Linked DNA regions of Homo sapiens: regions 1 and 3 are each linked to region 2. The links come from fine-mapping of genetic effects on gene expression. A gene starts in region 2. Each other region holds a variant in brackets. All regions are shown on one strand. Distances are from middle to middle.

Region 1 (10,825 bases), 81 kb before region 2:
CAAGCATTAGTTTTGAAAATAAATTCTAAATGGAAATGGCTTGGAATTGTGGAACTAGAGTGAGTGGGTATGGGGAGAGGGAAACACAGTTTGTGTTTCCAACCCCTGTAGTACTAATATTCCTGCATCTAGATGGTAGGTTTGAAAGGAGCAATGATGGCATGGTCATTGTAACGATAAGAAAAAGAATGTGAATTACAGCAATTCTGTCACTCAGCACGACCACTTGGATATTTTATTCGAGAGTAAAATTAAGTACAGTGAAACAGAGGTGCAATATTTTTGTTTGGTAATTTTACAACATTTTCTAAAGTCTAAACATCTTTTTGTGGATGGAATTCAGCCATGGGTCAGGCCTAGTTTTGTAAGGGCTGGGTCTCATGAAGTGTTTGGGGACAAATACCAGAACACATAACTTTAGAGAGGCTGGAACTCCTGCACAGAAAGCTAACTAGTTTTAGTTGATAAATAGACTATCCTGGTTAACATAAATAATATCTTTATATTAGCTGGAATTCTTCTTATTTAATTGCAATGAAATGCTAACATCATTATTCATTACTATAAACAACCAATATGTAGGTATAATTTTCACCTTAACAATTAATGCGATTACAGTAAATAGTATTAATGCTTTATAATTTCGTGTATGTGTGTAATTTTTTTTTTAATTGTATTGCATTTGTTTTTTTGTTGTTTTTTTTTTTTGAGACGGAGTCTCACTCTGTTGTCCAGGCTAGAGTGCAGTGGTGCGATCTTGGCTCACCACAACCTCCGCCTCCTGGATTCAAGCGATTATCCTGCCTCAGGCTCCCGCCTCAGCCTCCTGAGTAGCTGGGACTACAGGCATGTGCCACCATGCCCGGCTAACTTTTGTAGTTTTAGTAGAGATGGGATTTCACTGTGTTGGCCAGGCTGGTCTCAAACTCCTGACCTTTTCATCCCAAAGTGCTAGGATTACAGGTGTGAGCCATCGTGTGTCGCCTGGTTTTTTTTTTTTTTTTTAATTTTTGGTAGAGATGAGGTCTTGCTATGTTATCCAGGCTGGTCTCAAACTCCTGACCTCAAGCAATCCTCCCTCCTTGGCCTCTCAAAGTGGGATTATAGGCATAAACCACCACTGCTGGCCTCCTGGCATGTTTTATACATATGAAATTTTATATATATATGAAGTTCAATAAAATAAAATTTCAGGCCTGGAGGCTGAAGCAGGGAGATCTCTTGAGCATAGGAGTTCAAGGTTGCAGTGAACTATGATCTCACAATTGCATTCCAGCCTGGGTAACAGAGCAAGACCCTGTTTCTAAAAAATATTTTTAAAGTAAAAAAGAAATTAAATTTTACTGTATTTTTCTGGTTATTATTAATTTGATTTCATGATTGTTACTGAAAGTAATTTTGTCGTATGAAAAAAGTAGGGATTTAAAAATGATTAATTCTAGGTATCAGATAAACTAGATGTGCCATTGATCATGCCCTGAAGGATTAGCAATACTTCCCTATTGTCATTAACATTCACCCAACTGGCACTTTTTAGACTTTAGATTTTGCAAAATTTGGTCAGATTGAGGAGGAAGGAAGAGAATATTAGATATTTCTACTATCTTACTTCTCCTAGAAAACAAACTAGAGGCCAGGCGCGGTGGCTTACACCTGTAATCCCAGCACTTTGGGAGGCCGAGGCAGGCAGATCACGAGGTCAGGAGTTCGAGACCAGCCTGGCCAATATGGTGAAACCCCGTCTCTACTGAAAATACAAAAAGTAGCTGGGCATGGTGGTACATGCCTGTAATCCCAGCTACTCAGGAGGCTGAGGCAGGAGAATCGTTTGAACCAGGGAGTTGGAGGTTGCAGTGAGCCGAGATCGCGCCACGTCTCAAAAAACAGTAGAGCAAGAATGAAGAAACAGAATTGCTAAACATTAGTAATATGATAATAACAATAAAACCACCCACAATGATAATGTATTTAGAAAACACTTGCTAACTGGTCTAGCAGAAAATGAATTACAACAGTTTTGCAGAATTTATAGCCTCTTCCACCTAGAAATAAAGAACCATTTGTAACAGAATGGGGACCCTCCAGAGGGCTGGATCCATTAGGATGGAAGTAGGGCCCCTTGGCTGCTGTCTGTGTGCCAGCACAGGTGACCACAAACTCTGCTGACAGCAAGACAATAATTTTAGGAGGTAAGAATGTTTTCCTTCTGCTATTGCATCAACGATCCCTAAGGTTTGAGAAAAATGAAAAAGCACTTCAGTTCCTGTTTTACCCCCCTTAAATTGTGGACAGTAACTCTGGAGAACCTATCACTAGTTTGTCGAATATTTCTTCCAGTTTATACTCCTCCCCACCCTCACTGGGAAGTATAGTAGAGTGGAGAAAAGCCTGCAATTTGTGTGGATTCTAATTTTTATTTACTTGGGTAAATTATTTACCTTCCTAGTACTTCTGGGCCTTCATTTGAAAACTGAGGATAATAAAATTCCCTCCCTAGGACCATTTATTGAATACTTAGGACACCCAGAGCTGTTTGTGAGCATTTCATGTGTATTAACTTGTTGAATCCTCACAACAGATCCTATGAGATCAGAACTATTAGTAATCTCCCTTTACCGAGGAAACTGAAGTTAAGTAATTTGTCCAGGTTTGTCTTATTAACACTTCCTTAATCACTCTACTTATTCAAGTAGCCTTTGAAGCTTTGTCACAAAATCAATGTTTCACAAATTTCTATAAAATCATGACATTAGAGAAGCACCTAATCCAGCGGTCCCCAAACTTTTTGGCACCAGGGACTGGTTTCATGGAAGACAGTTTTTCCATGGACTGGGAGGGCAGTGGGCAGGGGTTGGTTTCAGGATGAAACTGTTCCACTTCAGATCATCAGGCATTAGATTCTCATAAGGAGTATGCAACCTAGATCCCTCACATGTGCAGTTCAAAGTAGGGTCTGTGCTCCTATGAGAATCTAATGCCGCTGCTGTTCTGATAGGAGGTGGAGCTAGGGTAGTAATGCTCACTAGCCTTCGGCTCACCTCCTGCTGTGCAGCCCGGTTCCTAACAGGCCATGGACCAGTACTGAGGGCTGGGGACCCCTGACCTAATCCAGTGATTCTCAAACCTAATGTACATGAGGATCACCTGCATGGCTTGTTAAAACTTAAGTTGTTGGTCCCCACCTTCAGAGTTTCTGATGCCCTAGGTCTGGTATGGGGCTCAATAATTGCATTACTAACACATTCCCAGGTGATGCTGATGCTGCTGGTCTACACTTTCTTTGAGAAAGCTACAGCTCTAAACTAACTTTGTCAACTGACCAGTCTGCTTGTTATGACACTTTGGTCGCGTCTGCTCTGAATGTTGTTGGCAAATGTGCAGAATGGCCTCAGGAGTGTGAGGCTGACTCATCAGGTTACTGTGACCTGTATTAGCTGCAGCTGGTGGCTGATTTCAAAATGGAGCAATTAAAGATTAAGACATCAAATCACAGGAAATTAAGATGAAGCACCACCAAGTATAAAACTCATAAAATTGCTAGCATTCCCCTGTTTTTGTCACACACGTGCATCCTGTTTTGCTCTGTTATTCTATCTGACATAAGACCACACCCTGAACAAACAAAAGACTGTCTCTGCCGTCAGAAACTGATCAGGCTCACAGGTGGGCAAGAAAATGGATATATATTCAATGAAATACGATTCTGGTGCTGATAATTTTATTTATTTATTTATTTATTTATTTTTTGAGACAGAGTCTCGCTCTGTCGCCCAGGCTGGAGTGCAGTGGCACGATATCGGCTCACTGCAAGCTCCGTCTCCCGGGTTCACGCCATTCTCCTGCCTCAGCCTCCCAAGTAGCTGGGACTACAGGCACCTGCCACCACGCCTGGCTAAGTTTTTTTGTTTTTTTTTTGTTTTTTGAGACGGAGTCTCGCTCTATCGCCCAGGCTGGAGTGCAGTGGCGCGATCTCGGCTCACTGCAAGCTCCGCCTCCCGGGTTCACGCTATTCTCCTGCCTCAGCCTCCGGAGTAACTGGGACTACAGGCGCCCGCCACCGTGCCCTGCTAATTTTTTGTATTTTTAGTAGAGACGGGGTTTCACGTATTAGCCAGGATGGTCTCGATCTCCTGACCTTGTGATCCGCCCGTCTCAGTCTCCCAAAGTGCTGGGATTACAGGCGTAAGCCACCGCACCCGGCCCGCCTGGCTAAGTTTTTGTATTTTCAGTAGAGACGGGGTTTCACTGTGTTAGCCAGGATGGTCTCGATCTCCTGACCTCGTGATCCACCTGCCTCAGCCTCCCAAAGTGCTGGGATTACAGGCATGAGCCACCGCGTCCGGCAGTGCTGATAATTTTAAAAATGACATTATAAAAAGACATATTACCCAAATTTTATAAATATCCATACTCTGTAACAGTGGCAGAGTATGAATCTGAATTTCTGTTGCCTCCAAAGAGTGGCTTCTTTATGCCAAAATAATTTCTCTGAGTGTTTTCTGAGTTAGAACTTCATGTAACTATTTCATATGGATTCATTATTGACTTACATGATATGGCTTCTTAGGATAAAAAACTGAAGCATATTTTAAGACAAATATATGAATTTGAAATATAGGCTAAGATGGAAACAAGATGAAATTTCATAATGCTAATTAATAATTCATTTAACTTCTTAGAAGTATATCTTCTGGGCCAGGCGTGGTGGTTCATGCCTGTAATCCCAGCACTTTGGGAGGCCAAGGCGGGAGGATCACCTGAGGTCGGGAGTTCGAGACCAGCCTGACCAACTTGGAGAAACCCCGTCTCTACCAAAAATGCAAAATTAGCCAGGCATGGTGGTGCATGCCTGTAATCCCAGCTACCCGGGAGGCAGAGGTTGCGGTGAGCTGATATTGCGCCATTGCACTCCAAGCTGGACAACAAGAGCGAAACTCCATGTCAAAAAAAAAAAAAAAGTAATGTATCTTTTGCATTTTTCTTTTTTTTTTTTTTTTTTTT[A/TA]GTTTTTTTGCAGATCACAGAACTTTACTAAGATGGAATCATGGCTGGGAGCAGTGGCTCACGCCTGTAATCCTAGCACTTTGGGAGGCCAAGCGGGCAGATCACCTGAGGTCAGGAGTTCAAGACCAGCCTGGCCAACCTGGTGAAACTCCCGTCTCTACTAAAAATACAAAAAAAAAAAAAAAATTTAGCCAAGCATGGTGGTGGGCACCTGTAGTCCCAGCTACTCAGGAGGCTGAGGCAGGAGAATTGCTTGAACCCAGGAGGTGGAGGTTGCAGTGAGCCGATATCACACTACTGCACTCCAGCCTGGGTGACACAGCTAGACTCTGTCTCAAAAAAAAAAAAAAAAAAAGATGGAATTACCGCTAATTACATAAAAGCTACTTGTCTAAATCAAAACCCATGAGTTTCACATAAATTCATAGTTATAAAACTAGAAACAAATGTCATATTCAGAACCGTAAGGAAATATCCTGACGACTAGGTGATGAAGGCTGGCGTGAATGAGTCTGCCCATTTATTTCGAGCTGTTATTATCACTTGTCTTATCTGCAGCTGGTGCCCATTTATTTCAAGCTGCTGTGGGCCATGCAGTAGTCGCTTGCATACAAGAAGTCTCATCACAGAGCTGTAGCTGCTCTCAGGCCTTTACTCTTTTCTCCACCTGCTGGCATTGCTCTCTCACTGTTAGGGGATTCACTCATTCCTCTCCCTTGTCCTCCTCCTTGGGATCTCTAGGCCCAGTCAGCATCTTTTACTCGTCCTCCACTCCCATGTCCGGCTAAAGTTCTCAATTCAACAGCATCAGTGGCACCTAATCTACTTCAGGATCAATAAGCTGCATTTCTTCTTATATACACTCATTTTAAAAATTTAACTTGATTAGCACCAAGTAAAATGTTGCAAGTAATTACTTCCCTAATGTTTTTTCTAGAATTAGAACAAGATGAGTTTCTATTTTTGTTTTTCTGGGTTTTTTTAAATGTGCTTTTTTTTCTTTTTTTCTTTTTTGAGACAGAGTCTCCCTCTGTTGCCCAGCCTGGAGTGCAGTGGTATGATCTCGGCCAGCTCACTGCAACCTCTGCCTCCTGGTTTCAAGCAATTCTCCTGCTTCAGCCTCCCAAGTAGCTGGGATTTACCATACTCAGCTAATTATTATTATTATTATTTTTTTTTTTTTTGAGAAGGAGCCATCACGCTCAGCCCCTAGATGAGTTTTTAAATTTTTATTTTACTTTTTTAAGAATTCCAAGGGGAGCCGGGCGTGGTGGCTTACGCCTGTAATCCCAGCACTTTGGGAGGCCGAGGCGGGCGGATCACGAGGTCAGGAGATCGAGACCATCCTGGCTAACACAGTGAAACCCCGTCTCTACTAAAAATACAAAAAAAAATTAGCTGGGTGTGGTGGCGGGCACCTGTAATCCCAGCTACTCAGGAGGCTGAGGCAGGAGAATGGTGTGAACCCGGGAGGCGGAGCTTGCAGTGAGCCGAGATTGGGCCACTGCACTCCAGCCTGGGTGACAGAGCGAGACTCCATCTGAAAAAAAAAAAAAAAAAAAAGAATTCCAAGGGGAATCAAGGCAGTTTTATAAAAAATTCATTCTACTAATCTCTGAGTAGTACTTTTCTGAATCTGTTCAGTCTACTATTTCAAATGACTGCAGTGATGCACATAATTTAGGATGGAATTGATTTAAATAAAATTCATCTAAAATTCACTAAATTTAGATTTAGATTACTACCCAGGAAGGTGAAATGTAATGTTTGCAGCTTCCTATCTCTTATTTGATTTAACTATAATATGGTTCTCAACTCATAAATGTTTCATTTTTGGAAGGCCTATACAATACATTTCAAGTGGTAATTAGTTTTGATAATTTCTCCAATTATTTTTGCTCTCTAATCAGGAAAATGAAGCATTTGAAACAAATAATTGTGAATTCATTGAGAGGTTTAATCACCTCTGAGTCAGTAGGCTTATCATGATTTTGTTTGGCATGCTTTACGATTACGTTAATATATCAACCAACACCTGAAAAACCATGCACATGTAAATGTTTAGTTTGATTATAGCAAAAAATGCTGAAATTTTTCTGAAGACACACAAAAATGTTGTCGTTCATACAACCTGGAGAACAAATCTTTTACCTCCACCCCCTGACTCCTTCGGCGCTGAGTACAGCACAGGAAGTTAGTAAGTCCTCATGTTTGCGATCATTCCTTTGCAGAAATTAACATAGGAGATGACAGATGTCTTGCTGCTGAAACTAATGCTGCTTAAAGAAAGAAAAAACTGCAATTTTAGCATTTTGGCTTGGTATGTGTACAAGATAATAAGCTGTGTGAGTTTAGAAGCTTGGAACCAATTCAACTAACAGATGCCAGTATGGCTCAACAGTAATGTCACATGCCGTCTCCACTGTGATCTGTATCTCTGTGCTGATCATCTTGTATTAAAAGGGCTATTTTTACTCTTGATATGCCTTACTAGAAGTACGCTACCTTTGGAAATTATTGTTTATCCTTAGAAGAAGGTATTGTGTGTGTGTGTGTGTGTGTGTGTGTGTTTCATTTAATACACAGCACTAGGATGCTCTAGGGTGAGGGGACATGCCTTCAGATTACACTGACAGAAAGACTGGAGAGCCCTGGTTCTTGGAATACTGAAGCTCATGCTGGGCTGTCCTGGACTATCTCAGACATTTAATTGCTACCCTATGATTGGACTTGAGAAATTTTTCAAGTTTCCTCAGCAAAACATTTATAAATCATCTCTCAGGGTGAGTTAATTTTGCAGAACTAACGCTACCTATGACAAGAGCTAACATTAAATGCTTAGTATGGGCCAAGAACAGCCGAGCACAGCAGCTAACACCTATAATCCCAGCACTTTGGGAGGCTGAGGTGGGAGGATTACTTGAGCCCAGAAATTTGAGACCAGCCCTGGCAACATATCGAGACCCTGTCTCTACAAGAACAACAAAAAAAAGCATGGTTTTTGTTTGTTTGTTTGTTTTGAGTTTCACTCTGTCACCCAGGCTGGAGTACAGTGGTATCATCATAGCACTGCAGCCTCGAATCTTGCAGGCTCTAAAGATCCCTGACATCAGCCTCCTGAGTAGCTGGGACTGCAGGCATGTACCACCATGCTGGGCCAATTTTTAAATTATTTTTTAAGAGACAGGGTCTTGCTGTGTTGCCTAGGCTGGTCATGGACTCCTGGCCTCAAGCCACATCTCTACAAAAAAATTTAAAAATTAGCTGGGCATGGTGGAGAAAGGATCACTTGAGCCCAAAAGTTTAAGGCTGCAATGAGCTGCGAGTGAGCCACTGCACTCGTAGGCTGCCCACTCCAGCCTGGGCAACGGAGTGAGACCCTGACTCTTAAAAAAAAAAAGTTCCTATTGCGTGTGGCTGTTGGGAAAACAAAATTAGTTAGCATATATGAGCTCTTTAAAACAGTGCCCAACACTTAGTAAGCACTCAATAAATGTTAGCTTTTAATACTGTGGGTATCTGTTGTAGTTTTGGGATCAAACTTCACATAACTGCGAATATTTTAAAATGTCAAAACTTTGGATCCTTTTTCTTGGTATTTCCTAGCTTAGGAGCCTTAAGAAATCAGAATTCTCATTTCAGTCTGTCTCCACTCCTGCCCAAGCAGGAACTCCCAACTTTAAGGTATTGCGTAGGCAGGGATTCAAACAGGTAAAGGCAAGAGTTTGAGCAAGAGAAGGAGGAGGAGGGACAATAAGCTCAGAAGAAGGGCTGAGTGGGCATACTCAAGATGGGCATATCAAGGAACTGGTTACATACCAATACGTATGAAGCTTGTTTCCTATACACAAAGTCCACACTGATAGCTTGGCCAGCTGGAGGTGTCACTCTGTCAGTGGGTCCCACCCATTCCTCTGCTACCACCTGTCTTACTCCTACCTCCTGTCCTTCAGATACTCTCCATTTCCCCTCAACACTGGCCATTGCCACCACCTTCATGTTACAATGTCAAGGGGTGTCCTGATGCCACTGCAGAAAGTACCTATCTCTGTTCAGCCTCAAGAGAGGAACTTCATAAATCCAAGACATTGCCAGAGCTAGGCTCATCCTCCTGAAAAGGGTGACTGAAATGAGATAATTTTTTTTTAATAAAATGGGGGCTGGGCACAGTGGCTCACACCTGTAATCCCAGCACTTTGGGAGGCTGAGGTGGGCGGATCACTTGAGGTCAAGAGTTCGAGACCAGCTTGGCCAACATGGTGAAACCTCGTCTCTACTAAAACTACAAAAATTAGCTGGGCGTGGTGGCAGGCACTTGTAATCCCAGCTACTCAGGAGGCTGAGGCAGGAGAATTGCTTCAACCCAGAGGTGGAGGTTGCAGTGAGCTGAGATCATGCCACTGCACTCCAGCCTAGGTGACAGAGCAAGATTCAGTCTAAAAAAAATAAAAATAAAAATACAGATGGGGTTTTGCTACATTGCCCCATGGTCTTGAACTCCTGGCCGAGTGATTCTGCTGCCTCAGCCTCCCAAAGTTTTGGGATTATTGACCTACACCACCACACCCAGCCAGATAATTTTTAAGTTGATTCATTTTATTAAAAGCCAATGTTTAATTTTTTATTTATTTTTTAAAGCCAGTATTTTAAAGCCCTCTATCAGACAAAAACTCTTGGCGTTTTCCTTTAAGATATACTCATGTTCAAATACATCATTATAGACTAAGACATAATTTAAATTATGACATGTCCCATAATTTCAAATATATATTCCTTAATTTAGAATATATACTTCTTTTTTTTTTTTTTTTTTTTTAGACGAAGTCACGCTCTGTTGCCCAGGCTGGAGAGCAGTGGCACTATCTCAGTTCACTGCAACCTCTGCCTCCTGGGTTCAAGCCATTCTTATGCCTCAGCCTCCTGAGTAGCTGGGATTATAGGCACACGCCACCACACCCAACTAATTTTTGTATTTTTATTTTATTTTTTTTATTTTTATTTTTTTTATTTATTTATTTATTTTTTTTTTTTTGAGACGGAGTCTCGCTCTGTTGCCCAGGCTGGAGTGCAGTGGCGGGATCTCGGCTCACTGCAAGCTCCGCCTCCCGGGTTCACGCCATTCTCCTGCCTCAGCCTCCCAAGTAGCTGGGACTACAGGCGCCCGCCACTACGCCCGGCTAATTTTTTGTATTTTTAGTAGAGACGGGGTTTCACCGTTTTAGCCGGGATGGTCTCGATCTCCTGACCTCATGATCCGCCCGCCTCGGCCTCCCAAAGTGCTGGGATTACAGGCGTGAGCCACCGCGCCCGGCCCAATTTTTGTATTTTTAGTAGAGACGAGGTTTTACCATGTTGGTCAGGCTGGTCTTGAACTCCTCAACTGAGATGATCCACCTGCCTTGGCCTCCCAAAGTGCTGGGATTACAGGCGTGAGCCAGCACACCCAGCATGGAATATATACTTCTTACACCTTTGAATTTTAGGAACAAAAGGTACTTTTGAGAGCATTCCATTTCATGTTAGCATTTTTTAGTTGAGGAAACTGAGAGGTGGTGAGGTAAAGACATTTGTCCTCGTTCACAGGGCTAATTAGTAGAGCTGAGACAAGAACAGAATTCTCAGTCAAGAGTTATTTTTATTACATCATAGAGGACCTGTCCTCCAAAGTAATTACTGTCATTTTGAAGGGTTCCAGAATGTGAGGATATGTGGAAGAGTAGCATCAACAGCTCATGCAGAATGGGAGTTAGGGGTACTAGTGTGTAATCTTGGGAAAGTTATTCCCACCTCTTTGCAAGTCACAGTTTACCTGATTGCAAATGTT
Region 2 (10,825 bases):
TTATGGCCTTAACTCCTCATTATATTACTTATTTTAAAATCATAGAAGCTAAATGTACATTGATACATGATTATATATGTACATGGCATAGTTGGAGATTAGCCTTATAGATTTAGCTTGAGAAATGCAAGTTTTTAAAATTCCACAGCAAACTCTAAAAGGTCAAATAAAATTCTGAAGTATTTCTTCAGTTGGGTAAGTTTGCAGCAAAACCATTTGGGGGCAAAATATGACCTGAACCAACATGAAGGTATTGATAAACATGTTTCAATTAGTAAGGGTAGTCATGTATTTTGATGCAAAAATGTATTAATGTGTTTCAATGGGAGCTGCTTCAGGGCCCATTGGGAGTGTTACATAATATGCTACATTTGTACTGTATTAACTTTCTAACATCCCCAGATTCCTGGATTCCAAGATATGTTTGACCCCAAAATGTGGTTTGGACAGGGGATTGTGGGCCTGTAGCATAACCACTCCTTTCTTTTTGCCCAGAACATGAAAAAGTCAGGCCCAGGCATGAGATATATAAAAATGTTGCAGGTGAAGTCCAGCTTGCAGGAAGACTCTTCAGGGGTTTCCATCAATTCTAGCTACCACTCAGTCTAAATTACAAAAGCGCTGCAGATACACAAAATCATTTGCATAAAATAGCTCAAGCGATCCTCCTGCCTCAGCCTCCCAAGTAGCTGGGACTACAGGAGTGCACCACCATGTCCAGCTAATTTTTAAAAAACTTCTGAGAGACTAGGTCTCCCTATGTGCCCAGGCTGGTCTTGAACTCCTGGGCTCAAGTGGTCTTCCCACCTCAGCCTCCTGAGTTGCTGGGATTACAGGCATGAGCCTCCACACCCGGCTCCTTTATGAGAACTTACAATAGAGCTCTGCACCAACCTGCTTCTGGGTGCTCCACAGCAGCTTCAGGAGTCCAGGGTCCTGCCTTTACGTAGCCCCTCTTCTCCAGTGCAAAGACAAACCCTCCATCTCCAATCACAATCTCTCCAGCATTTAAACGTTCTAGGATGCCCTAAAATTACAGATGAGGGAGGAAAAGGAGTTACTTGAGTGTTTAAGATAATTTTCTATTTTTATTACTTTTGCTAACATATTCTTGGAGATGTGTGGTTATTTTAGAATTTTCAGAGAAAAATGTATATTTTATATATACATTTATGGCTATCTATAAGACAAACAACCAGAATGCTCATAAAATAAACATTTGTGTATTCCTTTGTATGTGCTGTGGGTGGGGGGGTCTTTCTTAACACGTTAAAGAGTATTTGAAGAACACCGTGGGAGGTGTGTTTGAAGAACTGTCTGCTGAGGGATTAAATGAAAAGATTTTGTTGTAAAGCCTCAAATCTGCACTTAAGCACAGATTCTTAAAATGGTAAATACTAGTCTTCTTACTCTATCAACAAACTAAAGAGAGGGTTAAAAAATTGTTAAAGAAGTTGAAATGGCATAGAATGCTATTTTTTTTTTTTTTTCTTAGAGACAGCATCTCACTATGTGCCCAGAGGAACTTGAACTCCTGGGCTCAGAAGATCCTCCAGTCTCACCCTCCCCAGCAGCCAAAACTACAGGCTCGTGCCACAGTGCCCAGCAATGCTATTAAGCCATTTTATTTTAAGACTGAAAAGGTGGCCAAATCACTCAAAGACTTCTATCTTTGGTGTTAAAATTCAGTTTCCACAACAGTAGCTATGCTATACAGTCCAGGTTATGAGTGTGCACATGCTGTACTCTATGATGAGAACAAGGAAGAGACAACTAAAGTATTTGTTGAATGATTTTTCAGCCCAATCTCCATACTTATTCCATTTACAATACTGTGCAGTAATCACCCTGGTGTTGTTCTATGGATAACTTTGGAATTAAGTATTTTGAAAGGGTTTTGTGAATTACAAAGTAATTCTCTAGTTTAATAGATTTTTTGTAATTTCAAAGAATCATAGACTTTAAAAATAAATAGTACTCAATTCAATTGAGATCTCTCTCTCATTTCACAAATGAGAAATTAAGACCCAGAGTCCCTGAGTAATTTATACATGGTTTTCCAGATGGGGAGCATAGGGCTTCCTGACTCTTTTATGCTTAAATAACATCTATATTTGATTTCAAATGGGATTGGGGGTGGTGGGACAGCCCTGAAAAAAACTGTATAGTGTAAAGGAATAACTTGGGACGTATTTACCCAGTGTGTTCCACTTACTACCAATAACAGTGGATAAAACAAAAGCTGACATAATAACAAGATTCCAGAAATCTGTGAGAGGCAGTCACAGGATTTTGCATCCCAATTCCTTGCCACCTTCTTAGAACCTCCCTCATTTTCATTCTCTTCCCCTCCACTGCCCCTTCCCATGCCATTTGGACAGCTGGTGCTCAGAGAGAGGAAACAATTGACATTTCACCAGACAGAAGCAAAGTGGTAGGATTATGCTGTGTGTTCCCTAATATACCTTTCAGATCAAAACATTTTCAAGCCATAGTGTTGAAGCCTTGTTATCTTATGGGAGCCCATAAGATAACAAAGCACAACAAAAATATAAATGGCTCACACGTCATTTTGAAATCCAAATATTTGTCATGATTGCAATGTATCTAAATGTCACATCTGAAAACTGCAACTTTGATTATGACCTAATTAACAACAACAATAATATATATATGTATACATATATATAAATATATATATATATATACTACTGCCAGCACAGTTACATAAAAAACATAACAAGGGTCACTTAAATGAGATATGACTTGCTACTAACTTTTATTTGGATAAAATAATTCATGACATTTGGGCAGTTAGCAGCTCCCATTGAACGTGTGTGTTTTCAAATTTTAGTACCACAGCATTTTAATGTGCAGCATAGCTAAGGATCTGATGCTGGGTGGCAGGGTGGGTAGTGGCGATTCAATTACTATGTGGCTCATGCACTTGTTGAGTGGTTACCTCTGGAAATATGATCTCTTACATTCTATTGCATTTTAAAATTATCTAGACTTCAGGATTTTCTGTTCCCAAGCTAAACAGACTTTTTAAAAGGTGGAATGTGCTATGAAAAAAATATACCATTTTGTGAAAAAGTATTACAAAACAGTATATGTAATATCAGCCCATTTTTGTCTAAGAAGTGCATATTTGCCTCAACAACAAACTAGCAGAATATACACCAGAATTTAACAGGCACTGTTCTTTGTGCTTTCCCTCATTGTTTATAATGAACATGTGCAAACTTTGTAACATTTATTTTAATTTTAAACTCAAATGTGTAGACATGTTATTGTCCATATATTGTTTTAACACTGACATATGCACGGAAACAAGTTACTAGGAAACTGTTTTTTCCATCTTACATTCATCTGTTGCTTAGATAATTCTACAAAGATAATTCTTTAAAATGTTAGATTTTCTGAGTTTGAGTTTGGGGAATAAGTTAGACTTACGTGGCTATGAGAATGGGGACAAACAAAAAATATCTATATCTATAGGAATCATCCTTCCCAGTCTCTGTGGACTATTCATTTAGTACATTTAGGGACTGGCGAAATTCTCACCCTCCTTTGACTGGTGATAGTCCATAGTCCTTTGCCATCTCAACACCCACTCATGCCATCAACATGCATCCACGATGCTGCATTTAGAATCTGTAACCGAATTGACCTTCTTCCTTGTGTAGAGGTCTTTTTGATTTGGGAGGCCATCCCTTTAGAAACTGGGCACACCTCAGCTGGTTCTCCAGCAGGGCAGGCACTGGGATGAGAGCTGGACCTTTCTCACTGTCCTTACAGCCCAGAGGATACAGTTGGCCTGGCCCCATCTGCCTCCCTACCATTTTCCGGGGGCCTCTGTCGTGCCAGGCCTGGGACTGGGCATTTGACCAAAAGGTCAAGTTTATTCTCTCCTCCCTCCATCCTTCTCTCTCTCTTCCCACCTGTCCAGTCTCATTCCACGGCAGTCAGTCCATCTATCCATCCGTTCCCCAAATTAGAGGAAGGCCTACCGTCTGGACTGAAAATACCCCTCCCAACAAGCCACTGGGATAGCCAAGAGATGGACTTGTTCATCTGGAGCTGGAATTGGGTTTTACAATTTCATCAACAGCCCTTCCTCAGTATCTTACAGCCACTCTGCCCATTTTTTCTTAAACCATGTTTTCGAGGCTGACATTTCGGATGACATTTTTCTGTCATCACGGACATCAAATTGCCTGTGAAAATCTGCAATCACCCAACCAGCGCCTGGGCCTTGGGTGCAGCGAGAACCCGGCGGGGAGGCGGCCCCGACACCCGCGGTGCAGATCCAGGCGGGAAATGTCGGAGCCAGCGCCGTGCACTCCTCCCTGTTCTGGGCGCGCCGGGTGCAGAGGGCGCTCGCGGCGGCCTCGGACACAGATGCGGAGGGGCTCCGTGGGGACGGGATATCGCGCCTGCGGGGCTAGGAGCAGTATCTCTAGGGAGTTTTCTGGTCTTGGGGTGCCAGATTCAGAAGATATTGGAAGGCTCGGAGTTCTGGGGACACCCAGCCGTCAGGGAGGGCTCAGAGGGTGCCTTTGGGTCTGAGAGGCAAGGATCACATAGATCTGGGGCGCACTCTGGTCCAAGCTGGGCTGGGGCTGGAGGGGACAGAGGCGCTCTGGGGGCGCGCTCTGAACGTGGGGCAGGAGTGGGGAGGCTCAGAGGCGCCTTGGGGTCCTGCTGGAGAAGTTCTGGAAGCACATTCTGGTCTGAGGCTGAGGGAGGGGAGGGAGTAGGAGGATGATGGGTACCAGGCAGGGTCCGAGGGCCCCTCTGCGCTCCCAGAGGCTGGGATACAGAGCAGGTGGGAGGGGAAGGAGAGCGCCCTCGGGTCCCCTGGAGACTCACCTTCTTGGCCTTTTTGCCCCCAACGGGTGGCATCTTCGTGGTGTCCAGACAGGTGGTCGACACGGATGCGGACCGACTAGGCGAGCCTTCCCGCTGCGCAGCCCCGAGCTGCTCCGAGTCCGCAGCCTGCCTCTTTATACCCGCAGTTGGGCGTGGGGAGGGCCTCCCAGCCACCGCGCGGGCCAACACGGACCTTGGGCGGGAACACGCCCACCAGCCCTTCATCAGGCCCGCCTCCTGTTGGGAACCTGGCCTGCCAAGGAGGTAATCCAGATTGTTCACCCAAATGGGTGGAACCACCGAAAAGTAAGATAAGAAAAAGCGAGGTTGCCACTCGCTCAGATTTCAAACCTGCCTAGCGTCCCTTTTGCCTCTTGCACTTTTGCCCCGACCCTGACCGTCCTCTCGCTCACCTGGGATCATGCACCATGGCCCACTTAGGCTGCCAGAGAGGCCTCTGAGAAGTCCATTCGATGCTCAGATATTTGTCAAAGGCCAAGGCGTCAAGATTATGGAATCAGGGGATGAAGTCCTGGAAGATCTTCAGCCTGGAGTGTGATCTCCTGTGTGATATACATCCAGTATAACGGGACACAAATGCGGCTTTAGTAGAGGAGTCCAATACTAACCCTGAATTGGCGGGTATGTTCAAAATGACCTTCTACCCCTATACCCAAACATGCCTTGCAGTTTCTAATAACACAGTAGTTTCTAATAAGAATATGTTTGTAATATTTAACAAGGACAGACTTTTAACATTTATAAATGGAAGCAGAAATGTACTTTGAAGACTTCAAAATTCAGCATGAAAACGATATAAAAACATAGACATTAGAAGAACTGGAGGGAATAGAGATGTTAACAGTAGTTACCTATTGATGGCGGAATTAAGGCTTGTTTTATTTTATTCTTCATGTTTCACTGTATTTTCCAAAATATTTTTATAATGAGAATACATTGATTTTAAAATAATAAAAACATTACTTTAAAAAATGTACAGCATGGCCTGCACGGTGGCTCATGCCAGTAATCCTAGCACTTTGGGAGGGTGAGGCGGGTGGATCACCTGAAGTCAGGAGTTCGAGACCAGCCTGGCCAACATGGTGAAACCCCCGTCTCTGCTAAAAATACAAAAATTAGCCGGGCATGGTGGCAGGCGCCTGTAATCCCAGCTACTCGGGAGGCTGAGGCAGGAGAATCGCTTGAACCCTGGGGGCAGAGGTTGCAGTGAGCCGAGATTGTGCCATTGCACTCCAGCCTGGGCAAAAAGAGTGAAACTCTGTCTCAAAAGAAAAAAAAATGTACAGCATGACAGTAAATAGCCTACAGAACAATGAAATATCTGAAACACAGTTCAGAAAATTTTACCCAAATAAAAGCATGTAAAAAAATTCTGTATGTGGACAAACAACCTCCATTTCAACACATGCAGAGAAGAAAGTTACTGCAACACCTGATGAATTAATACAAATTTAACGGCTAAAGTGACATGTGTTTGAAATACAACTGAGAAAGTAAAAATGTCCTTTTGCTTCTAAGTATGTCAAGTTTAAAATGGAAAAAGAAATGAAAAGGTGAAAGGATATACTGTTATTCAAGTGATCTATTATTTCATTGGCTCCTCCACCCCCAACTGTGATCTGGGGTCAGCAAGAATGAGGCATGAGGTAAAGTCATTCTTCACAGTACCTAGATTAAAAAAAAAAAACACCTTGAAGGCATTGGAGTATCCGAATAGGTAACAGTTTAGTTAGTTAATGCGTTAACTAGTTAAGGTATTCACCTGGTGAGCACTGGTGAGATGAACAGGTCTAGAGTGAGCCCCGCGGTGGCTGCAGGGAGCAGCCGCAGTCGTGGGTATCTGGCACTAGGAGGCGGTATAAGCACTCTAACACTCAATAAAGGCTGAAAGCCGACGTTCCCAATTTCAGTTTCCTCAAAATGTGGCAAAACTTGGGAGAAATTTTAAACTAGTAGCATTAAATTTAGAAGTGAATTATGAATTTTTAATAGGTAATATAGACACATGGCAAAAATTTTACTTTTTTAATCTTTATTTCTCCAAGAACAAACATGGCAAAAAAAATTTAGAAGCCTTTCCCCAGCTGCTGTTGCAGATCAAGTCCCCTCCCTGGAGGTAACCACTATTGCCTGTTAACCGTTCTTCCAGAGGAATTTTATGCATACCTAAGTGTATAGATGTATATAAAAGGATTTGTACTCGAACGTAGGGAATTTTCGTTTTTTAAAAAAATTATCGACTCCCAGCTTTTCCAGAATGATTTATAGGTGCTGTCAAAATATTTTTGTTTTTTCTGGGCCTCTCAATTTGTTGTCCTAACTATCCCATGCCCCCACCCCCAATTAGGTCCATTTAAAAAATTATTCACTTATTTCCATAATAGATGATAATATCCACCATGTATGTAAAAGGCACTAAGCCTTTTACTTACACAACATTATTTACCCCACACAACTCTGTGAGGTGGGTGTCCCCTCTTTGTTCTCAAGAACCACGAAGTTAGGGAGTTAGATGGATCATCAGCATGCTCCCTGAAGTTTCTTTGCCCCATTCCCAGAGAACTAAGTCTGCTTGGATACCACTTAGGAAGTGAGGTTTTTTGCTTGTTTGTTTGTTTTTTTGAGATAGAGTCTCACTCTGTCGCCCAGGCTGGAGTGCAGTGGTGCAATCTCAGCTCACTGCAACCTCTGCCTTCTGGGTTCAAGTGATTCTCCTGCCTCAGCATCCCGAGTAGCTGGGATTACAGGCTGGCGCCACCACACCCGGCTAACTTGTATTTTTTGGTAGAGACGGGGTTTCACCATGTTGGAGAGGCTGGTCTTGAACTCCTGACCCCAGGTGATCCATCCGCCTCGGCCTTCCAAAGTGCTGGGATTACAGGCGTGAGCCACTGCACCTGGCAGGAAGTGAGTTCTGCAATAAACTGTCCTTGGGAGGCTGCCTATGTTCTCTGATCTCTACTGGAGTCAACCAGATGAGGGAGGTCATAAGACTGAAGTCCATGGCTGTGTACAAAGATGTTGGGGGTTAAAAATAAATCCCAAAGAAGAAGAGGAGACTTAGAGCTGGCGATCCACCCCCTTCATTTTACAACCTCAAAAGATACTCGGTTATTGTTCTGTCTCTGACCAGTGCTTTGTTCTATTTGAAATCCTATTTATTCACTCAATAAACATTTAGGTACCATTAATACAATGTTTTAAACCCTATGCTTGGTGCTGGAAGTAAAGGATATCATCTCCTTTTTTTTTTTTTTCAAGGAAGAGATAGAAACCATCTCATATAAGTGCTAAAATGTTCCTTTTACCAATATGTAGATGGAAAAATGTCAGGACTTTTCATTTCCCACTCAACTGGGATCTCTTTTAAAATGAAACTGACTTTTCACAGGCCTTTTTAGACTAAATATGTTTCATTTAGCCTTAAACCATTGAAGATACTTTAACACTGTGTTTAATGATGTTTTATATTTTAGTATGATGTTTAATGATGTTTTAACACTGTGTTTAATGGTGGTTTTACATGTTAACACTGTACAGAACAGTGTTTGCAAACTGCTGATGTGGAAATGGAGCCAGCTTCTGCGTTTCCTTTGGCAAGGCCAGTGTTTTTAAAAAATTGAATGTGAATTCCTTTATGTGGCGCTTCCACCCTTCCCATTTGCTGGTCTGTACCACACCCAGCTGCCCTGCACTCTTCTGGTTCACATATTTACCTTACCTTAAAGGCATTTGGGCTTTCAACTTCTGCTATAAATAGAAGGTATATTTGGGGTTACGGAATACATGTTCCCCCAAGTAGCCCCCAAACCGAAGATTTCATTTGCCTTACATTTTCCTACTGCCACTAACCCCCGTTATTTTTTCTTGCCAGGATGACGATACTAAAAGGTTGATGAGGTGGATTTTCCTTCTAAAACTCTCTTCTGCAGGTGCACAGGTTTTCCTCAGTTTACCTGTCCTGTCCAGCACCCTGTCTATTGCAGTGGCCACATACATGCATTTGTCCCAACACGTTCATGCATAGCCAACCACTGCACAATTACTCCTCTTTAAAGGGTCTTGGTTTCTTCATATGGAAAATTAGAAGTTGAAGCTGGGTGACTTTTCAGATTTGTCTTTGCATTTGGTTTGGCATAAACTTAGAGCACAAAACAGCCTCTTCCCAGGGTGCTTTCATTGCCTTTCCCTTGCCATCAGCGAGCCCTTCCTGAGCCCGGCTCTGACCGTGCCTGTGGCTCCTGCTGGTGCCTCCAACTGCTGCCCATGCTTGAGTTTTTGCCTTTAATTTCCTAGTTCTTAGAGAAACAGCTGAGCTTTTTGTTTTTGCTTGTTATCTCAGAGCTTCCTTCCACCACAGGTGAAAATGCTTCCCTCAGGGCTTGCAGATTAGCCAGCATATCCAGCGTCTCCAGCATCTCCTGGCTTTCCACAGAGGAGTCCTCCAGCTGATATTCTTGTTCATTCTGGACACCTCCAGTTTCCCAGAACTATCCTCTCAGCATGGTAATTGCATCCTGAGTTCCCTTTCTAGCTCTGAAATTTCCTCTCTTCTGCTTTTCCTCAAATGCTTTCTAACAGGATGATTAGCCTGTCACATGCCCTTTTGTGGCTTTTTTTTTTAAGCAGATAACTGTAACTTTATGAGCACTTCCTATGTGGAGTTAGCTGTGCTAAGTGCTTTGTAAGCATTAGTAATCCTTACAATAGCCCTGTGAGGTAGGGATTTGACCAGCCCGATTTTACTGATGACAGTGCTGAGGCCCATGGAGGCCAGATGAGAACTTTCCCAAGATCATGTCAATAGTAAGCACAGAGCTGAGAGAGGACGTCAGCTGGGCCGAATGAAGCCAGAGATCACACTCTTTAGAGTTACTCTATGCTTTCTTTTCAGTAGATTGTTTTTCTCAAAAGCTCCCCAAACTTTTTATAACCTCATCTGACTCATGGACATTCCCACTCACCTGGCCCGACCCAGAGGTCCCTTCTCCTGGTCAGAAGTTCCAATTCATTGGACATACAGTTAGTGACAGACAGAAAATAGTCTGTCCTGACCAGGCTACCCCACCAAATACCCCATGACTTCTGCACTGTGTGTAACCCTTGGGTTGCCTAGTCATTCTGAAATGTTGTTGTTTTTGATAGGCATTGGAAAACAGAAGCACTAAGTTCTGGGAATAGCCATTCAAATCTTAATTTCTATCATCTTTGTGAGCTGCTAATAGATGTCTTAGTTCATCTTTCTCTGTCTTAATAGGAAACGGTTGGAGTGGATGCTATAGGTCCCCTTTTTCCCAGGGGTCTGGTACATGATGTTTAAGTGGTCCATCAGCTCCAGTATGTAGCTCCTGATCTGGGTAGTCATACCCCAGGGACAGCCCTGCGACTTGGTCTCAACCCTGCAGAAGAAAGAAATACACAGCAGCCTGGCGGGTGTGTGGTGTGAGAAGGGAGAGATGGCAACAGAAAGATCAACAGCAACTCAGGGATAGCTGGTTATAGGGGATAGCTGGTTATAGTGGGATGAGATGTGGATTCTAACCCGGGGGAACTTAGACACCAGCACCACACTGAGGAGCTTACATGTGACGGGAAATTCACTACCAGGTTGGAATCCACACCCTGCCACCCCTTTTTTTTCTTACACAAAACATGCTGTTTTCTCATTTCCATTTCCTGATGGTTTGCACATAACTGTACTAGTCAGCTGCATCTGAAGAGGATTTTGTGAGGGCTTTAGCTGGTGCTGATGCTGGAAATCTTTGCCTATGTAAAGCGTTTCTTTGGCGGTAAACTAGTACATGACTTTAGTCTACTTTGAGATTATTATCAGTACATGGCCCCCTGTTGACTTAGAAAAGTAGTGACACATTTCTGACTAGCAAAATGGTCATCACTCAACAGCTTCTGAACTTCAAGAATAGAGGAA
Region 3 (10,825 bases), 20 kb after region 2:
ACAATGATAGACTGGATTAAGAAATTGTGGCACATATACACCATGGAATACTATGCAGCCATAAAAAATGATGAGTTCATGTCCTTTGTAGGGACATGGATGAAATTGGAAATCATCATTCTCAGTAAACTATCTCAAGAACAAAAAACCAAACACCTCATATTCTCACTCATAGGTGGGAATTGAACAATGAGAACACATGGACACAGGAAGGGGAACATCACACTCTGGGGACTGTTGTGGGGTGGGGGGAGTGGGGAGGGATGGCATTCGGAGATATACCTAATGCTAGATGACGAGTTAGTGGGTGCAGCGCACCAGCAAGGCACATGTATACATATGTAACAAACCTGCATGTTGTGCACATGTACCCTAAAACAAAGTATAATAATAATAATTTTAAAAAAAAGCGGTTTGAAATAGTGTATCCCACACTCATGTTTTAGTTGAACAGTTAAAATGCTTGTGTTGGTTTTACTTTTTTAAGACATTAAAATGGTTCCCATATTTTAATTTTTTTTTTTTTTTTTTTTTTTGAGACAGAGTCTCACTCTGTTATCCAGGCTGGAGTACAGTGGTACAATCTTGGCTCACTGCAACCTCCACCTCTCGGGCTCAAGCGATCTTCCCACCTAAGCCTCCTGAGTACCTGGGACCACAGGCACACGCCACCACACTCCACTAATTTTTCCTATTTTTGGTGGAGATGAGGTTTTGCCATGTTGCCCAAGCTGGTCTCAAACTCCTGAGCTCAAGTGATCCACATGCTTCAGCCTCCCAAAGTGCTAGGATTACAGGCATAAGCCACCATGCCCAGCCAATGATGCATTTTTGAATGTGCACTTTTGTCTATTGCTAATGACCCTGAGTCCTAACTCTCTCCTCTGTCCTAAATGCTTCCTCATCTACTCTGGTCTGGGCCTTCTCAGGGTTGCCCCCTGAGCCATTCTGTTTGCACAGCCTGCCATTTCACTTTCTGATGCCCCCCATTTCCTCCTTCCAGTCTCTTCAACTTCAGCTTCTTTAAAAGAGCACAATCTGATGCTGGTCTGTCCTACACCATGTGCGTGTTCTTCAAAATACTTTTGACAAGAGGATTCAGCAAGGCAACATAAGAGAGTGGCTTATTCATCTTTGCATCCTTTGACCTTAGCATGGTTTGTACATTCATTTACTTATTCATTCATTCAACAATTTTTTTTTGAGTTCTATAATGTGCCGGATGCTGAGAATACAACAACTAACAAGATGTTTTCACTGTCCTGTTGAGTAGGGAATAGGCAAGTAAACAGGAATGACCAAGGGAGTATTAAAACTACATTGAACTGGCCGGGCATGGTGGGTCATGCCTGTAATCCCAACACTTTGGGAGTCCAAGGTAGGTGGATCGCTTGAGCTCAGGAGTTCAAGACCAGCCTGGCCAACATGGTGAAACCCATCTCTATGAAAAATACAAAAATTAGCCAGATGTGGTGGTGGGCGCCTGTAGTCCCAGCTACTCAGTAGGCTGAGGCAGGAGAATCACTTGAACCCAGGAGGCGGAGGCTGCAGTGAGCTGAGATCTTGCCACTGCACTCCAGTCTGAGCAACAAAGTGAGACTCTGTCTCAAAAACAAACAAAAAAACCAAAACAAATAAGCAAAAACTACATTGAACTTATTAATGATAAATATAGGGTACTATGGAACATATAAGAGTGACTATCATAGTCAAGCACTAAATAAATGTTATTTGAACAGTGAATGAATGAGTGATTGAATGAGTGAATAAATTAAAAAATGGTTGAACATGATTAGTTATGAAAGCACAGAACCCTCGAGGTGAGTTGCCACCACCAGATGAAAAGATTCTCCTCCAACTTCACTATTTTGAAAGGCGGGCTCATCTGCACCTGTATCATGGAAAATACAACTTTTATTTCTCTTTCTCTCCTCTTCCCACCTCTGTGCTCCAGATAAATAATGGAGGTTATAAATGAAACGTGACTGCCAGCAATAGCACCACTAGCATGCCCCATCTACTTTTCTCAAAATCCTTTCACAAAACAACACTGATATGAGGCAAAATTGCACCCTTCTGCAACTCTTTTCAGGATTTTCATTACTGATTAAATAAAATATGTGCTCACCTTCAAGGCAGCTGACTGTACAGCCAAAGTGAGTTGCTTAACTTTGTTTATGATTTTGCATAAAGTATCAAATCATGGCTGTGATCATTGCAAAGCAGGAATTGTTTTTCCAGCTGACCCTCGCCCCTAGTTTCAACAAATCTCTTCGATCCCTTTCAGTTGGTTTCCATGCCAGCTATTTGCTGGTCTGCATTGCTGAGTCTATGCACAGCAGGGTTTATCAGAGGGCCATCTGCTCTTCTTGATAACTCCAGTACAGCAAACATCTGCTGTAGAACTGGAAAGAGCTAGTTCAAGCCAGTTTTTCTTAATTGCACTGTTTTTTTTTGGCAGACAATTACCTTCTCCTTAATTTCCCCCTACAAAATCAAAACCTGTGGAAATCTTGCCTTTTAAAAACGCCTCCTTTTTATATTCTAAAATATTTAGCATAAATTATAAATAGTAATCAACATTTAGTATGCATTTTAAAAAATTGCATTATTTCCAGAAATTAAGAACATTTTCCTGCATTGCCAAAATTAACCTGATTCCTTAGTCAAATTTGCCCAGTTGTTCCCAAAAGACCTCTTATAGCCAGTTTGTCTCAACCAGGACCATGCATTGCATTGGTTTGTCATATAAAGATGAGCAACTCCAACACAATGACCTGTGGAAAAGACCAGGCCAGCCAGCCTGTAGAATATAGGATTCACCTGATTGTGGTGTTTACCTTGTTCCTATATCCCTTGATTTCACTGAACTGGAAGTGAAATCTAAAGGCTTGATTAGATTCCCCCAGGCACTTCTGGCTGGTGTACATCATTGGTAATGTAGCGTTTCCCATTCTGTATCACAACAGGAAACTCATGTTATCTGATTTTTCCCCTTGGAATCAGAAATCTTGACATATGTTTTAAAACTAATTTATTTTGTAGAAAAAGTAATACCAAACCATATTAACAAATGTAGACACTAAAGAAGGGCATCAGAGAAAAGGAAGTCTTCCTCCTACACCACACTTTCTATCACCAGTCTTTCTCCCCTAGGAGGGAGATATTCCTTCCTGAAATATTCTATGTACACACAATGGGAGCATACTTTCATTTAACAATATATGGAGGAGATCCTTCCATCTTAGCACATATTGATATAATGTACTCTTTGTAATGATGCCATGCTTTAACATCCTGTAGATGTTCCATAATTCATTTACTAATATGTCATTGATGGATATTTAGGTGGTTTCCAGACATACATATTTGCATATATATGAACATAATTGCAGATTATATTCCTAGAAGTAAAATTGCTCATCCAAGGGCATGTGAATTCTAAATTTTGTAAATATGGACCAATTACTTTCCAAATAGTTTGTACCAGATTATGCTTCTACAAAAAGCATATGTATGAGAAAGTCTTTTCCCCTGCACCCTCATTGACATATTATCCACTTATTGATCCTAGTTGATGATAGGTGAAAAAAGGTATCTCGTCACTTTGCTGTGCATTTACCTAATTTTGAATGTGTTTATCTTTTTCTATATTTAATGGATTAAGGTAATTATTTCCTAATTTATAGATTAAGGAAACTATCCCTTAGCTTATCAAATGTATGCAAATATGTGTGGCAGGATATTAGTACTCAGATTGTGTTATTCTGTTCCCCCCACCCTTTTTTCCCAGCACTGGAAAGATATAAGGCAAATATTTCCCCACCTCTAATAAGGATGCCATTGAGAAAAGAGGACTTCACTTTCCTATTGCTTTTGGAGTGATGTCCTATTATAATAACATATGAAGAAAAGAAAGTTTTTCTGAAAACCTTACATAGTTGTGGGGATTGAGGGAGGTGGGGAGGAGGCAGTACAAAGTGCACGTGGGGGCGCACAGGAGCTGACCATCAATCCCCAGAAGTTGCCCAACAAGGGAGAGGACCTGCTTCTTGGGAAGGAAAGAGTCAAGTGGGGCTGGCAGGTACCATGTTACGGGATAACATATGAATGCTCAGAAACTGTCCGAGCTCTGTGTCAGTGCCTGTAGATCCAACGACCTGGCCCTCACATCATCTCCACGAGGTGCACTGTGCTTCCTGGGGCACCTGATCCACAACCTCATATCCTACACCTGAAACAGTGACCATCAACATGGCTGATGGTGTTGATGCTAGTGCTGACCCCAAGGCTTTGCTTGGTCCCAGCTGGGTACACTGTCCTCTCATAATACCTGTAAGCCCAAGAAAATGGAGTGGAGTGGGGTTCTGAATGCCAATCACATAGGCGAGCCCCCCTCACAACATCTGTTTGGGTTCGGGGAGGTTTGAACAAAAGCAGCTCAAGACCCCTTTACTGGAAGAGTGGTTTCTGACCTCTGTTACACAGTTTTCCTATTTGCCTTTGCCTTTGTTTAGAGTATTTTTGTGTGAGTGTTCATACATTTAAAGTTTTTATATGGTAAAATTTATCTTTTTTTCTTTCTTAATTTTTATTTTTATTTTATTTTATTTTATTATTTTTTTTTGAGACAAGGTCTTGCTCTGTCACCCGGGCTGGAGTGCAGTGGTGTGATCACAGCTCACTGCAGCTTCGACCTCCCGGGCTCAAGCTTCAGCCTCTTGACTAGCTGAGACTATAGGCATGCACCACCATGCCCAGCTAATTTTTGTATTTTTTTGTAGAGACAGAGTTTTGCCATGTTACCCAGGCTGGTCTCAAACTCCTATACAGTTTAGCACACCTAAACTGTACAGTAACTAGATAAAAGCCTTTGTTTGTGCTGGTGCAGACCCAAGGAAGGGATTCGGTGTGGAGACATCTCTCCCTCCTAATGTACCTTCTTCACTCTTGCTATTCTCATGATGTCCTGCACTGCCCTCTCCACAAAATCTATGAAGCAAGCAGGAGATATTGTGTAAACGGTCCTCCCCTGGAATGTGGTGTTCAGGACTACATACTAAAAATAAGCAGAGGCTTTGGTACCAGAGTGTTCCCAGAAGACAGTCACCATGAGGATGAGGGGATTGGAAACCAAGTCAACATAATTATATTATACTATATAATGTGCAATGAATGCCTGTTATACGACATGCACTGTTTCTAAGAAACTTATCTCATTTAATCCTCATAGCACCCTAATAAGGATGGTTCTATTTTACCCTCATTTTACAGATGAGGAAATTAAGGCATAAAGCTTAAGTAACTGTACAGTGTCACACAGGTAGATTTGACAAAGCACATCTTAGCCTATGCCTTTTAGTTGAAGGAAATGAGGACAAGTAAGTATAGGAAAGCCATACAGCTATCTTTAAATTTCAAAGAGTTATATGGAAGAAATTATAAATTTGCACTTTAGGTGCTCCAAGTCTGCAGGTGAGGGTCATTAATAAATAGATTTCTAGTTAATACATGGAATAACTTTCCAGAGAATGAAGTGTTTCTTAAAAAGGAGTAAGTGATCTCGAGAGGTAGTGAGTTACTATTTAAGGGATTCAAACAGGGACTGGATGGTCCTGATGAAGATGCTGGCGAGGATATTCAGGTATTTAATTGGTGGTTTGGATTAGTCACCCTTAAGGACCCCAAAGGCCTTGAGATAATAGTAAATGATTCACTTTCTAATTTCCAGCAGGGTGGGGTTGTGTATTATGGGTAAAGTGGCTATATCAAATAAATTCCAGGTTGTCAACATTACAGAAACAGTCATGGCAGGTTTGAAGAGTTAATTCATAATAAGGAAAGTTGATAAAAAATACTTTGAATCCAGCGACAGAAAAATTTGGATAGATTTTTGACAAAAAGCAGCAGCTGTGTGCATGACAGATGCCGTGTAGTGCAGTAGCTAAGGGCATGGATTCTAGAGCCAGCCCCATGGGTTCAAATCCAAATTTACTAATTTCACATTTACTAGTTGTGTGACCTCAGGCAAGTTACCTAGCCTCCTTAAACTTCAGTTTCCTTACCTGTAAACTACTGTGTTAAACACTATCTAATTTTGAATCCCTGTTGGGGGGTATATGTAGATGAGATCATCTTTAGAACAAAGACTGCGACATAGTGAGTAATAAATATTTGCTAGTATTATTCCAAAGAATGTTCATGACATTTTCGACATTCAAACACTATAAAAGGTAAATCATTTTTATTGCCACAAATTGATAAATTGTTGTGA[A/C]AAAAAGAGAAACTGGCACACATGAAATAACACAAACATAAGAAGATATAAGACCAAAATAGATTTGAATTATGTCTCCCAGGCTGGATTGCAGTGGGGCGATCTCAGCTCACTGCAACCTCTGCCTCCCAGGTTCAAGCAATTCTCATGCCTCAGCCTCCAAGTAGCTGGGATTACAGGCATGCACCACCATGCCTGGATAATTTTTGTATTTTATTTAGTAGAGATGGGGTTTTGCCATGTTGGCCAGGCTGGCCTTGAACTCTTGACCCAAGTGATCTGCCCGCCCTGGCCTCCCAAAGTGCTGGGATTATAGGTGTCAGCCTGTGCCCCTGGCCTAAACTCTGACTTTTGAAAAGGTTTTCTAAAACTTTATTTTTAAACAATCAACAATAAGTATTTCACTGTGCACCTATTAGTATGTCTAACACAATGCTAAGTAAGGGGAATTATGAGAAGATTATAAGCTTATCACGTGATCTTGTCTTTAAATAGTTTATAACCTAGCTACCTATGATTATGAAGACACATTTTAAAAATTCTAGGACCTAATATCTTTTTTTTTTTTTTTTGAGATGGAGTCTCACTCTGTCACCCAGGCTGAAGTGCAATGGCCTGATCTCGGCTCACTGCAAGCTCCGCCTCCTGGGTTCAAGCGATTCTCCTGCCTCAGCCTCCCGAGTAGCTGGGATTACAGGCACCCGCCATCATGCCCGGCTAATTTTTGTATTTTGGTAGAGACAGGGTTTCACCATGTTGGTCAGGCTGGTCTTGAACTGCTGACCTCAGGTGATCCGCCCGCCTCGGCCTCCCAAAGTGCTGGGATTGCAGGTGTGAGTCACTTCGCCTGGCCAGACCTAATATCTTTAAGTAAAAATCATCTTTGAAAGTAATCACTTTGGATAGTTAAACATTTATTTCAATAATGCTACCATTGCTCAAAACATTCTTTACATCTTTTCTTTGGGATTGCCTTTGGAGTCATTGTATAAATCATTAAAAAAAGCAGACTCATTGCTTTAGTTTAGTGTTGCTCTATCATCCTCAAGTATCTAGCTTAGTCACTTGAATTATTCACTAGCTTTGGGTCTCAGTGACTTCTGATTATTTTAAAGTGTCAAATTCACCCTCAAAGACAAGTTTGGCTATTCTTCATGATCTTCAAAGGAATGCACCACAGCATGATTGGACAGTAAGTTCTTGGAGAACAAGGTGCCTCTCTCGCTTCTCTTTGCATCTCTGGTAGAGTCTGTTGCAGTGCTTAACCACAGCAGGAGCTCAATATGCACACACTTGTGGGCTGGAAGGGAAGGGGCTGCAGCACCTCAGCTGCTCAGCAGCTGGAGATAGCAGGGCATGGTGAGGATGAAGGTGAGGAACGGTTCCAGGTCAGGCTTGAGGGCAACTTTTTCCTGTTCGATTATTTCAGGGTTTTCTTTCACTACTCCTTAGAAGTCTGGCTTTGACAGCGAAGGACAGAAAGGTCTGCCTGAAGCTGGCAGCAGATTCTCCCAATACTCCCTTCGAGCCCTGTGTTTCAATATATACATAATTAATTAATTAAAAGTCTTACCTATAAGTCCAATATGTCATATATGTATATATGTATGTATATGTATATAACCACACACACACACACACACACACACACACACACACACACAGTCAAAACTTGGTGGATAATCAGGCTAAAGCAGAACTTTTGTTTTAACATACAGACGGAAAACTGTGTCCATATCCATTAATGCCAGGGGCCTTTCTTACATTTCAATAACAATCATTAGGTTTCATACCACCTTTCAGAAAAAGACAACGTATTTCAATTTCATATACTTTTTATTTTGAGACAGGGTCTTGCTCTGTTGCCCAGGCTGGAGTGCAGTGGCACAATCTTGGCTCACTGCAGCCTAGACCTCCTGGATTCAAGCAATCCTCCTGCCTCAGCCCCCCAGGTAGCTGGGACTACTGGCGTGCACCACCACACCAGGCTAATTTTTGTATTTTTAGTAGAGACAGGGTCTCCCCATGTTGCCCAGGCTAGTCTCAAACTCCTGAGCTCCAGTGATCCGTCTGCCTTGGCCTCCCAAAGTACTGGGATTACAGGTGTAAGCCACCATGCCCAGCCTTACATTTCACATACTTTTATGAATTATATTTATTCTGAAATTTCTAACAGAGTCCTTCTAACTCTATCAATATTTTAATGTAATGAGAAGAATACGAGAACAGTTTTTAATGTAATGAGTCAAAGTATAATTCTCCAAAAAGTAACTAAGAAAATAATACAAATTACTTTACCAATATTTGTTTCTTGTTGTTAGACAAAGGAAGAAGAGTACAAAGGTCCCTGGTCGTAGCCCTTTCTGATGAATATATTTTTATTGTTTTTTCCACTTTACTTACAAAACAATGAATAAATCAATATTTTTGGATGATGAGATGTCAGAAATCTAGTGTTTATTGTGTAATCATAAATTTCTGTGAATATCAGTAGGTTTGGGAGTCAGGGTAAAAAGGGTGTCTTCTTGCTTTGGTCTACAGAATAATGTTTTAATTCTAATAGCTAATGAATTTTAAGGATTCCTAGCAGATGATAATTAAATAAACTACTCACTTATTTAAACTATTTTAATCATCACCAAAGTATGTTTTCCTCACCTTTTAATTATATTTATATTTAATACTTTTTAAAAAGTATGACACATATACAAAACATCTTCTCTGGTAAATATCCATATCTCCTAGAAGAAAGCTTTGGCTAAGTGATTCTTGCCTACTTTTACAACCTAAGTAAATTTGCATTAGGCAAATTTTTCCAGTTCAAAAATGAAGACTTTCAAATCCCACTGAAATGAATAAATAAGCACAAAATGGGTGAAGTACATGAGAGTACTGAACAGAGAGAAGACAGCAGAGATTGTGACTAGTTCTAGAAGATGGAAGGGGGATGGAATTATATCAACAGATATACATACATATGTATATATATATATATATATATATATATACACACACACACACACATACATACACAAAAGATTATCTATATGGAAAGATAGAGAGAGACAGAGTATGAGTGTGTGTGTGTGAAATACAATGATCCATAACAGAACAGTAATTTTCTTGAGGCCCCAAGAAAAATGCCTTCAATAATAAAGTGACTTACTGTAACAAACAATATAATTTAGAAATTATAAGACCTCAGGGAAAGTGAAGCCCTGTTATTTTTCTTTCAACAATGGAAAAGGAAGTTAATCAGAAATCCCTAGAAAACCAAAGGCTATACAAAGAAAGTCAGACCAAGTATGAAGCAAATTGAAATATGGCATGGATTTGGACAATATATCCACGGGAATGCAAGAGAAGAAAATTCATTTGACCTTGATGCTTGGAACATTCTCCAACAAGTAGCTCAAGTTTTGTAAATAGGATTATTTCTCTTTATCCATGGTCCCATGCATACTACTTTGTTCTGCAGTGAACGTTTTTCTAAATGCAACAATTTTCTATTATTCCTGCAACAGAGTATTAGATTGGAAGTTTGACTGGAAACACCAAGGCATGATGGATTTTAGGTATCAAGGGGAGTTGCAAGACAGACACTGCACAGAAGTTAAAAGGAGGTGGCCACGAACCAGCCAGATGACTCATTTGACTGTCCCCTGGAAAATCTGGACCACAAGAGAACAATGGGCCAGCTACTTTGCTTGTGGGCAAAAGGGGTGCTGTTAAATTGGGGTCAGACCACACTCTCATGGCTTGTCTGCAGAAAGGGTGAAAGCTGTTTTGAGCCTAATGAGAGTGAGAGAGCCAGCCTGAACTATCTAAAATCTGGCCCAAGAGAATTACCGGGGAGGACAACAGGACCCCCAAATCAGAGTATATCTGGAGTGACCTGGTTGAAAAAGCCACTGTCTGAGGCAGAAGTCACAGTCAGAAAAATGCCTGTGGCATGAGAAGTACAGACAAAAGTTTCCAGTGGGAGCCTCTGAAGACCCATGAGCGTGCTCACAAAGATCTGCCAGGGTCAGAGGATGCCGGCTTCCTATCAGGGTGCCAGGCAAGCAACAACAGTCTTACTCCTTTATCCATCCTCTTTCTTCTTACTTTGAATCTGAGGAGGCCAGAAACCATGGTAGCAAGATGGGAAGGGAAGTTTGGGAGCATAACAGAGAAAGAGAAGCAGCGCGCTGGCCTCTCCTGGTTTCCTGTCTGTGGAAGGCTGTTGCTGGACAAAGGGAGAAGCTTCAAGTTTCAAACATGCTCTGAGTTTTGATTTGACATGAACCTGAACACTTTTATTTATTTTTTATTTTTGGGGTTTTTTTGTTTGTTCATTTTGAAATGGAGTTTCGCTCTATTGCCCAGGCTAGAGTTAAGTGGCACAATCTTGGCTCACTGCAACCTCCACCCCACTGAATTCAAGCGATTCTCCTGCCTCAGCCTCCCGAGTAGTTGGGATTATAGGCTCCCGCCACCACGCCAGGCTAACTTTTGTATTTTTAGTAGAGATGAAGTTTTGCCATGTTGGCCAGGCTGGTCTTGAACTGC

Which allele goes with the higher level. Positions count from the first base shown, and alleles are read on the strand shown. Sizes are in standard deviations (SD) of each study's normalised expression. Not every link is listed here.
In carriers of allele A in region 3, the expression in subcutaneous fat of the gene that starts at base 4,985 in region 2 tends to be lower than with C alone (moderate effect, 0.55 SD a copy in GTEx).

What was found. PIP is the estimated chance that this variant, and not a neighbour inherited with it, causes the effect.
Region 1: its variant is fine-mapped to the expression of BHMT in prefrontal cortex (CommonMind, PIP 0.91).
Region 3: its variant is fine-mapped to the expression of BHMT in subcutaneous fat (GTEx, PIP 0.91).

Annotation. Positions count from the first base shown.
Region 1 is chr5:79,186,503-79,197,327 of GRCh38, reverse strand. All of the region lies in intron 1 of LOC124901011 (a long non-coding RNA gene), which reads left to right. Among named protein-coding and RNA genes, the nearest start is that of JMY, 44 kb to the left of the region's middle. The variant A/TA (reference allele first, on the strand shown) is at 5,002.
Region 2 is chr5:79,105,969-79,116,793 of GRCh38, reverse strand. It overlaps BHMT (betaine--homocysteine S-methyltransferase), which reads right to left and starts at 4,985. Exons shown (of 8, transcript NM_001713.3): 1 at 4,876-4,985; 2 at 895-1,027. The coding sequence starts at 4,908. It overlaps LOC124901012 (a long non-coding RNA gene), which reads left to right. Exons shown (of 2, transcript XR_007058837.1): 2 at 1,496-1,987. RefSeq lists an enhancer at 3,815-4,659.
Region 3 is chr5:79,085,472-79,096,296 of GRCh38, reverse strand. BHMT2 (betaine--homocysteine S-methyltransferase 2) reads right to left here. Exons shown (of 8, transcript NM_017614.5): 8 at 6,228-7,804. The coding sequence ends at 7,723. Among named protein-coding and RNA genes, the nearest start is that of BHMT, 21 kb to the left of the region's middle. The variant A/C (reference allele first, on the strand shown) is at 6,275.